Linked DNA regions of Homo sapiens: region 2 is linked to region 1. The links come from fine-mapping of genetic effects on gene expression. A gene starts in region 1. The other region holds a variant in brackets. All regions are shown on one strand. Distances are from middle to middle. Region 1 holds the start of HTR2B (5-hydroxytryptamine receptor 2B). Region 2 has its middle 7.2 kb from the start of ARMC9.

Evidence for each region. PIP is the estimated chance that this variant, and not a neighbour inherited with it, causes the effect.
Region 2: its variant is the best candidate, but not a certain one, in a credible set for the expression of HTR2B in lung (TOPMed, PIP 0.81).

Annotation. Positions count from the first base shown.
Region 1 is chr2:231,123,238-231,127,627 of GRCh38, forward strand. HTR2B (5-hydroxytryptamine receptor 2B) reads right to left here and starts at 1,805. Exons shown (of 4, transcript NM_000867.5): 1 at 1,735-1,805; 2 at 176-893. The coding sequence starts at 527. The region is part of intron 16 of PSMD1 (proteasome 26S subunit, non-ATPase 1); the gene reads left to right.
Region 2 is chr2:231,189,214-231,193,603 of GRCh38, forward strand. No RefSeq gene overlaps it. Among named protein-coding and RNA genes, the nearest start is that of ARMC9, 7.2 kb to the right of the region's middle. RefSeq lists an enhancer at 2,296-3,176. The variant C/T (reference allele first, on the strand shown) is at 1,757.

The DNA of each region.
Region 1 (4,390 bases):
CTGCTGATCAACCATAGAGAATGATATAAAACAAGGGACTGTTTACTTGCCGTATCTTTAAATAGTCCAAGTTCATCTTTTATTTCAAGAAAAGTAAAGATTAAATGAGTGTCCATTCTCTAATAGTATATCATAGTTCTGTGGTTTGATGGCACAAACAAAGTGAAATACTTACCAAACATTATTGTCAAGAGGGCAATTGGCATCACAAACAATCCAACCAGCAAATCAGCCACCGCCAAGGACATTAGAAAGTAATTAGTAGCATACTGCAGCTTCTTCTCCAGTGAAACAGCCAGAATAACAAGGGTATTTCCACCAATTGTGGGTATTATCACCATGAGTATCAGAAGAGCTGCCCAGTGCAGTTTATTTCCCTGTTCCTCAACAATCTGTTTCATTTCCTCTGGTATTGATTCTGTCTGTAATCCAGACCAGTTAGAAGAGATAACGTGAACAAAGGTGCTCTGCAAAATGTGCTCAGGAATTGTGCTTTGAAGTTCAGACACTCTGTAAGAGAGAGCCATTTGCTGTTTTTCTGTGATTCAATCCCGTTCCGAACAGTGGTCAGCATGGTTAGTAGCTAAGCTGCTCATCTGTTTTTTTAAGGCATTGTAACCATGCCAAACACTCAAAAGCCAAAGTTGACACCTTCCTTTAAAAAAAAAAATTCAAGTTCTCTAAAATGAGCGCATACACACATCTGTCCATGTTTGTAGGTAAGATATCCAAGTATTTATTATTTTCTAGAGGCTTAAATTTAGGAAAGCTCAGTGAAAGAAACTGATAGCTGTGAAAAAAATAGGATATATATATATTTTTAGTTTCTCTCTCTCTCTTTTTCTGCCGTAGTTGTAGAGTCGTGTTTGAACTTGCATGCCAGAGAGTTCCCCCTAGATACAAAATACATAGACTGCATTATTTTATTCATTTCTGAAAGTGGTAAAAACACTTGAACTTCATAGCCCTTCCCTTCTTAGTAAGTCTGTTGTGCATTTGTGACAATGCAGCCAATTCTCCAAATATACTGTATTTCTGATGTTGCTCAGTTAATGAAACAGAAGACACATTAATTTTTTCAATGGTTATAATAAAAAGTTAGGTGTTTCCTGACCCTTGAATGTCTTTTTACCTTTACTTACAGAAGAATAGAAAAGTCGAAACACAATAGTTCAGAATAGAACTTTTAGTATGCGCTGGCCACCCACCTAGAAACACTCAAAGCCCAACAAGGGTCTAAATAAATGTTTTACCAGCTAGGGATCCTTATATGTAATTAGCTTTGTCTTATCAGGTTTGTGAGTACTGATATAAATGTCATTTTAGATTTCCTTTAGTTTGAGAGAAGGAAAAAAAAAGGTATTACTAGGATCCAAATAATTGTGTTTAGTAATTTCATCTCTCATGGTATGTCTTTGCAACAATTGTGTTCTAAATTTAATCACTAAATTTGCCAAATTCAAACCAGTTCTTTTTTTGTTTTAAGTAGTGTTTATTTTTTTAACCTTCCCAGTTGCCTTGAGAAGAAAGGGAAACCAAAAGGAAGATTAGACCATTTATTTGTTCATCAAATGTACAAATCACGTTTTTAAAAACTCTCCTTTAGCATTAGTAAATTTTTCATTTTGATTTTTAAACCGCTGAATAGAAATGAAAGATTATGATAGCAGAATTCTTGAAGATTAAAAAAAAAAACCTTTAGATTAATTCCATATGTGTTTATTAAATGCTTACCTCTGGTTTCGTTGTTATTTTGCTGAGCATGTCATCTTATCTGTTCACTAGACTTGCTTGCTGCTGTGACTGAAATCCTCCTCCCATTGACTTATTCTGAGCCTCCAGCACAGGCGGTTGAAAGCAGTGAAACAAATACGTTGTATAGCTGCAAGCATGCCAAGGAGGTTATTTCCTCTTTGATACATTCATTTTTAGAGAGTAGCAGCATTCATTGTAATTCATAAAACCACTGTTAAGCATGTTGAACCAGTTCATGGCCCTTATTCAAGTTATATTTTTAAGAGCTCTCTTTAATATTTGGGGGGACTGTAATAAACTTGATCATTTTAGCTTCAGATAGTTTTGTTTGGGGTTAAGCCTGAGCTGTTTTTCACATTTGAGAAAAAATAAGATATAATCTAGCTATTTTAGAGGTTTCATTCTTTGAAGATTCTGCCGTTTTAAAAGCCTATAGTGATTTCTACAGTTCTGATTTCTAGCAGTGAAACAAGATTCTTATCTAGCTTTTGTGCCTTTGCTGTGGAACACCATTAATTTGCTCTGGTTGCAACCTTATATAGAAGAGCACAGAAAGGCCTGAATTCTACATGTATACATAGGTTTTAGCAGAAACTTTTTTACTGCTTATTTTTAAACAGATGATCTCTGGGTTTAGGAGTGGTTCACAGCTTTTTTTCCCCATAGACTTTACGTTGGAGAAAATACAAGTAATGAAAATACGTTTTTGCCTTATTTCAGAAAATTGGTGTTTAAATCTTAATAGTTATGCTATTTAAGTTTTCTGTAACCATAAGACTAGCTTAGTATTAGAACCTCAGCATTCTCAAGGTTTCCTTTTAAAAGATCATTATAGATGCATATTTTAAAATTAATTACTTATAAATCAGTGATGACATTTGTGCCCTTTTCTTGTTTCAAATTTGTATTCCTTTGCTCATGTTGAATGTTATTGGAAAATACTTAGTTCATTTTAGCTCTGCTGAGCACTTCAGATTTTATTCAGTATTTGCTGCTTTTTTAAAAACTCAAAATTTACTATATTAGAAAAAATACTTGTGAAGAATTCTAGATGAAATAATATTCAAGAGAAATCAGATGTTTTTTAATGTACCAGAATTTCTATTCAGGAATATGAAAATATTTTAAGGCAAGGTGCGGTGGCTCATTCCTGTAATTCCAGCACTTTGGTAGACCAAGACAGGTGGATTGCTTGAGTCTAGAAGAGACCAGCTTGGGCAACATGGCAAAACCCCATCTCTACAAAAAAAACCACATAAATTAGCCAAGGGTGGTGGTTCACACCCGTAGTCCCAGCTACTGGGCGGCGGCGGAGGGGTTGAGGGTTAGGGGTCAGGGGAGACCTGAGGCAGGAGGATTGCATGAACCTGGGGGAGGTCGAGGCTGCAGTGAGCTGAGATCACACCACTGCGCTCCAGCTTGGGGTGACAGAATGAGATCTTGTCTCCAAGATTAAAAAAAAAAGAGGAAAAGAAATTATTTTTAAATACTGCTTAGTTGTGAGTTACACTTTGACATCTGTGCTTATGAAGGCAGGTAGGGATCTGCAAAACAAGTAATGTCAGATTGAAAATAGCAGCACCATTTTATATCCAGTGAAAAGACTTGTATGAAATAAGCCTTTATTGATTTGTTTATAGATAAAATTTTTTAAATATTAAGTATATTATAAAAATGCAGTCATTGTTGTATTTTGCCTGTATTAATCCTTTCACTCACATTCACTCATTTTTTGCCTCAACTTATAAAAAGTAAGATTGGTACTCTGATTTTTTTTATTTTTGCTTTTTTAAGTCTGTTTAATGTCTAAGGAACGTAACTAGTTAGAACAGCTACTTATTTGGCAATCTCAAGTTATGGGAAGCATAGCTGAGAATCAAGAAAAAAGCAAAATAATAATAAATAAATAATTATATAAAAGGATAGTTGAGTCTCAGCAAATAACTAAACCTGTGCTCTAAAACCCTAAGCACTTTAAGTAGAAAGTAGCCTCTAAGTCCCCACTCCATATCTTTTTACTCTTTACACACATACACGCACACACACGCACAGACGTATACACACACACAAAACTTTGCCTCTCCCCCTTCTTTAGTGAAAATAACATTTGTACATGGTGGTAGATGTAGATAGTACAAAAGAATGTTGAGTGATAAATTCATGTGAGACAATTTTAATAAACATGTTTCCCTGCCTACTCCAGATTTGAGTAACAAGTTAAAAGGTGGACAAGCACTTTGATAATAGCAAATAGGGTCAACTGAAACAGCAACAACAACAACAAAAAAAAAAAAAACAAGAATTTAAATGTATAAACATGTAGGTCTACTCAAAGTAGAGACTTGTACCTTTTTTTGTGTTTGTTTTTGTTTTGTTTTTTGAGACAGAGCCTTCCTCTGTCACCCAGGCTGGAGTGCAGTGGCACAATCTCAGCTCACTGCAACCTCTGCCTCCCAGGTTCAAGCAATTCTCCTGTCTCAGCCTCCCAAGTAGCTGGGATTACAGGCGCCTGCCACCACGCCTGGCTAATTTTTGTATTTTTAGCAGAGACGGGGTTTCGCCATGTTGACCAGGATGGTCTCGAACTCTTGACCTCAAGTGATCGCCTGCCTCAGCCTCCCAAAGTGCTGGGATT
Region 2 (4,390 bases), 66 kb after region 1:
CAGAGATTTTTGGCTCCCAAATGGGACTCTGGTGCGCCTCCTGGGAGCTGGGACCCGCTGCACCCCTGTAGTTATGGGACTGGAAGACAGCTGCCAGGTCTTCGCCCGCAACATGGGGAGCACTGTCTCGATGCGTTCATCCTGACGGCTGGGCACTGACGGGCCAGGGAGCAGCTCTCTGAGCCTCAGCTCTCTCCATTTGATGATGCTGCCCCTTGGGTCTGTGCCCAAGGTGTCAGCCTCCAGATGCACCCAGACCCTTGCAGGCCAACCTCTGTCAGGACAGCCCCAGTCCTCAGATAGGGTTTGCTTAAATCTAAAGGGTGGGCAGGGCTCATGTCACCTTTTTCTGGATAGCTTCTACGCCTTGATTCAAAGCAGGGGCCGCAAATACCTAGGGGAGTGGGTGACTTAACTCCATTTACTAGAAGTGTCTGAGCCTGGACAAGCTGCCGCCACACTGCACATAACTTCAGCACAACTGCCTCCTTCAGCACCTCCCCCAGGATCCCGGGGCCCCTTTCCAGGACCTGGAGAAATAGGAGGACACGGCTGAGCCCCTGCTCACAGAGGGAGGGAGGGAGGGAGGAGGGGGCCCCCGGAGCTGAGATTCAGCCACTTGTTCTTTCCTCCTGCTTAGAACTCTGCTTCGTGGGCAGGAAGGGAGGCCTGGGATGGAGGCTGGCTCTGCCAGGGAGCCTGTAAGAGTGCAGACTCTGCCTTGCAAGTGATCAGTGTGAAGAGCTCGAGTCAAAAAGGATCCTTTATCCAATACACTCAGAGGCATTTTAGAAAGTCAAGAGGGTGCAGCCATGCCAGGGTAAGGACTAGGCTCCCAGCCTCCAGGGAAGACCCTGGAAGGCCTTGGTGGCTCCTCTCTGGTTCTCAGCAGACCCAAGGTTACCCAGGCAGAGCGGACATGCAGTCCCAGTCCCACACAGGGCTGAAAGCGGAGCGGAGAGGGAGAGAGCGGGACGGAAGCCCAAAGACCGAGGGCACTGTAAAGTCCTACTTCCAGCCCTGCCCAGCGGGGCCAGCTCCACCCCTGACTTCTCAGGGATGTGAGCCAAAGAAAGCCCTTTTGGCTTAAGCTGTTTCGAGACAAGTTCCTATCACTGAATGTGAAGGATCTCTTCTTTCCTAAGACACCGGACAGCTCTGATCTGTCCTTTGTAAGGAGTTCAGGCAGGGAGGGAAAGGGCCAGGGGCCGGACCAGAGAGAACGTGCAGTAAGGGACCCGGGTGGGCCAGGGCTGCCGGCCGGCCAGGGCAGCTCCACAGTCAGGGGCTGGGGGCTAAGCCGGGGCGTGTTGAGAGGGGGCGGCTTGGGGGTCGGTGATGGGAGGAAAACAGGGAACCCAGGACGCCCGGGTGGGGACTGACTCTCCATTGCAGGGCGTATGTTTTCTGGGCGCCTCTCGCCGTCCTGACCGCTGGGCTGGCAGAGATGGCGCTGTGTTGCTGGAAATGACGGCCTAAGGGAGGTGGGGGTGCACCTGGGGCCAGGTCGGGCTGTGCTGGCTGTTCCCCAAGACTCTACCTGAGTCTCCCGCCGCAGCCAACCCCAATCCTTCCCACGCCGGAGATCACTGCAGTGACCCACCCTTCGTTAAGTGTCAGGCCACTGGGTAAAAATCCCTGCAGCCCCTCGCTCGCTTCTCTTGGCTGGAGGCCGCGGGACGGGCTCGCTCCCCCCGCCGGGACCCAGATCGGGAACTGGCCCCCACGCCAGTCTGGCTGCGTCTGGGCCGCTTCC[C/T]GGGCTGCTCCGCCGGCCGGATGCTCCCGCTGAGACATTTATCCTCCGCGGAGCAGGGCCCTGGGGGGGCTGCCCCGCCTGCACTGGCCGCGGGTCTCTCCTTGGAGTTGGCTGGGGTACCCAGTGGGCCCGCAGCTCGGCTTTCTTGGCCGCAGATGCTGCAGGGGCCCTGCCTAGGACCCTTGAGTTCCAGCAGAGGCACCCAGACTGCTGAGCCAGAAGATTTGCGTTTCTTTTCTTTTTTTTTTTCTTTGAGACAGAGTCAGGCAGATCACGAGGTCAGGAGTTCGAGACCAGCCTGATCAACATGGTCAAAACCCTTCTCTGCTAAAAATACAAAAATTAGCTGGGTGTGGTGGCACGTGCCTATAATCCCAGCTACTCAGGAGGCTGAGGCAGGAGAATCTCTTGACCCCGAGAGGCGGAGGTTGCAGTGAGCTGAGATTGTACCATTGCACTCCAGCCTGGGTGACAAGAGTGAAACTCCATCTCAAAAAAAAAAAAAAAAAAGATGTTCTCTGTGTGCCACATCTTGCTGGTCACCCAGGTGTGTTGACCTGCCAGGAAACTACCCAAATGTGGTCACTTTAGCATCTATTCCTCCAGCTTAAACCAACATGCCACCCTCTGGGCTAACATCCTGTGCCCTGTGATGTGCTTTTTTAAACTTGCTTAGAAAGTGACAGTCCTCGGCCGGGCGCAGTGGCTCATGCCTGTAATCCCAGTACTTTGGGAGGCTGAGGCGGGCGGATCACGAGGTCAGGAGATCGAGACCATCCTGGCTAACATGGTGAAACCCCGTCTCTACGAAAAAACACAAAAAATTAGCCGGCACGGCAGCGTGTGCCTGTAGTCCCAGCTACTCGGGAGGCTGAGGCAGGAGAATGGCGTGAACCCGGGAGGCAGAGCTTGCAGTGAGCCGAGATCGCGCCACTGCACTCTAGCCTGGGCGACAGAGCCAGACTCCATCTCAAAAAAAATAAAAAATAAAAAAGAAAGTGACAGTCGTCATGAAAAGTCTTAAGTGAGTATGTCTATGAACACCACTGATGAAAGCCCTAGCAATCTCTCCAAGTGTGCCTGCTTGGAAACCACCTGGGAATCCAGGCTTGCTCTTCCAGATGTTCATTTTGAGGCCTGAGTTTTTCTGCCAACCTCCTCCAGGCCACAGAACGATTGGGGCAGTGATGCGGCTCACATCCTTGGGACAGGGGAGGAAGGACACACACTAGAGGCCACAGTGGCTGCTCAGTGACTTTCAGGGGTCGCCTGCTTTACCGCCCACCGAGAGCTCTTTTGGGAGATGAATATTTCCACCCGGTGTGCTCTCCTTCCAAGAAATCTTCAGCTTCCAGATATAAACAGCTTTGGGAAGGGGAGTGGGAGGAGAAGCAGCCTTTGGGAGACAATTGTTCCTCCACCCCTACATGGACTCCGGGCTGGGAAGATGAATGGACCTGCATACCCCACACATCATGAGTTTTGAGCAGCGACCAAGATCCAACTTTCCTGGAAGGAAATGTTCGCTTAAGCAGCATCTTGTAATTCATCTCTTGATTTACGCCGGGCATTTCAGTATGTTCCTCCTCCATCCCACTGATTAGATCCAGGCGCTGGGCCTGCCCAGAAACATGCTCTTGGTCTGAACTCCCCCTGCAGGAGCTCCCGGATGAGGCAACTGCGTTTAGTCTAGCTGGCCGCTGGTCTGCCTGGGTGGGTCAGGCTCAGTGTGCTTAATTTAGGTGGCTTCACCCTTTTATGCAACTCAGGAAAGTAACATTTACCAACTCTCCCTCTTTGCTTGTGGTCTCAGCTCTTTGCCTTCCAACAAAGACAGCAGCCAGAAAGATGCCTGCTTTGCCTGCAAAGATGACTTCATTCATGAACTGTGTGTAGCAGGCCACAGAGGAGTGTGACCCTCCTGCCCCTAAAGTACTCAGGGCTAGGGCCCACAGAGGGCTCTAGGCTGCAGAAGAATCAGCTGTGTCCCCCACCAGAATCTAGAGCTCCACCAGTCCCTTCGATGTCCTATGCAAGGCTGAAGATATTGGCTAAAGTGTTCAGCATATTCCAAGGATTTAATTTGAGGTTAAGTTTTTCCCAGCACCAGTGTCATTATAATTCTAGAATCTGAGAGATGGGTGTATGGCGATTCACTAAACCATCCTCTGGTTTTGCATATGTTTGAAATTTTCATAATTAAACAATTTAGAAAGTCATCTTGGGCCCATTGGCAGTATGTATCCCATTTTGGGAAAACTGGAGTGGTCAAACAAGAACATTTGGGGCAAATGGGATGCTTTGGCAGGTCCTAAGAGTGGGGAAGCTGAGGCAGCTGGTTCAGTGTATTGCTATGAACTCATGGAATATACACAGCAGAGCCAACCTAGAGACTGCCTGGAGGAAGCTTCAGAACTAAGCAGTTTTGCCTCTTGTGACAAAAGTATCCTTTGTACTCCCACGAGAACACATCGAATAAGTTAAACAGACTGAGATTGAGTCAGAGATTTTCCACCTAAATACTGGCATTATGCTTACACAAGTGTTCAGGATTCAAAGAAAGTCTTAAATTATAACTAAGGAATTATAGTAGTTTAATTATTTTTAAACTGTATCAAACCGTATCTATTTGTT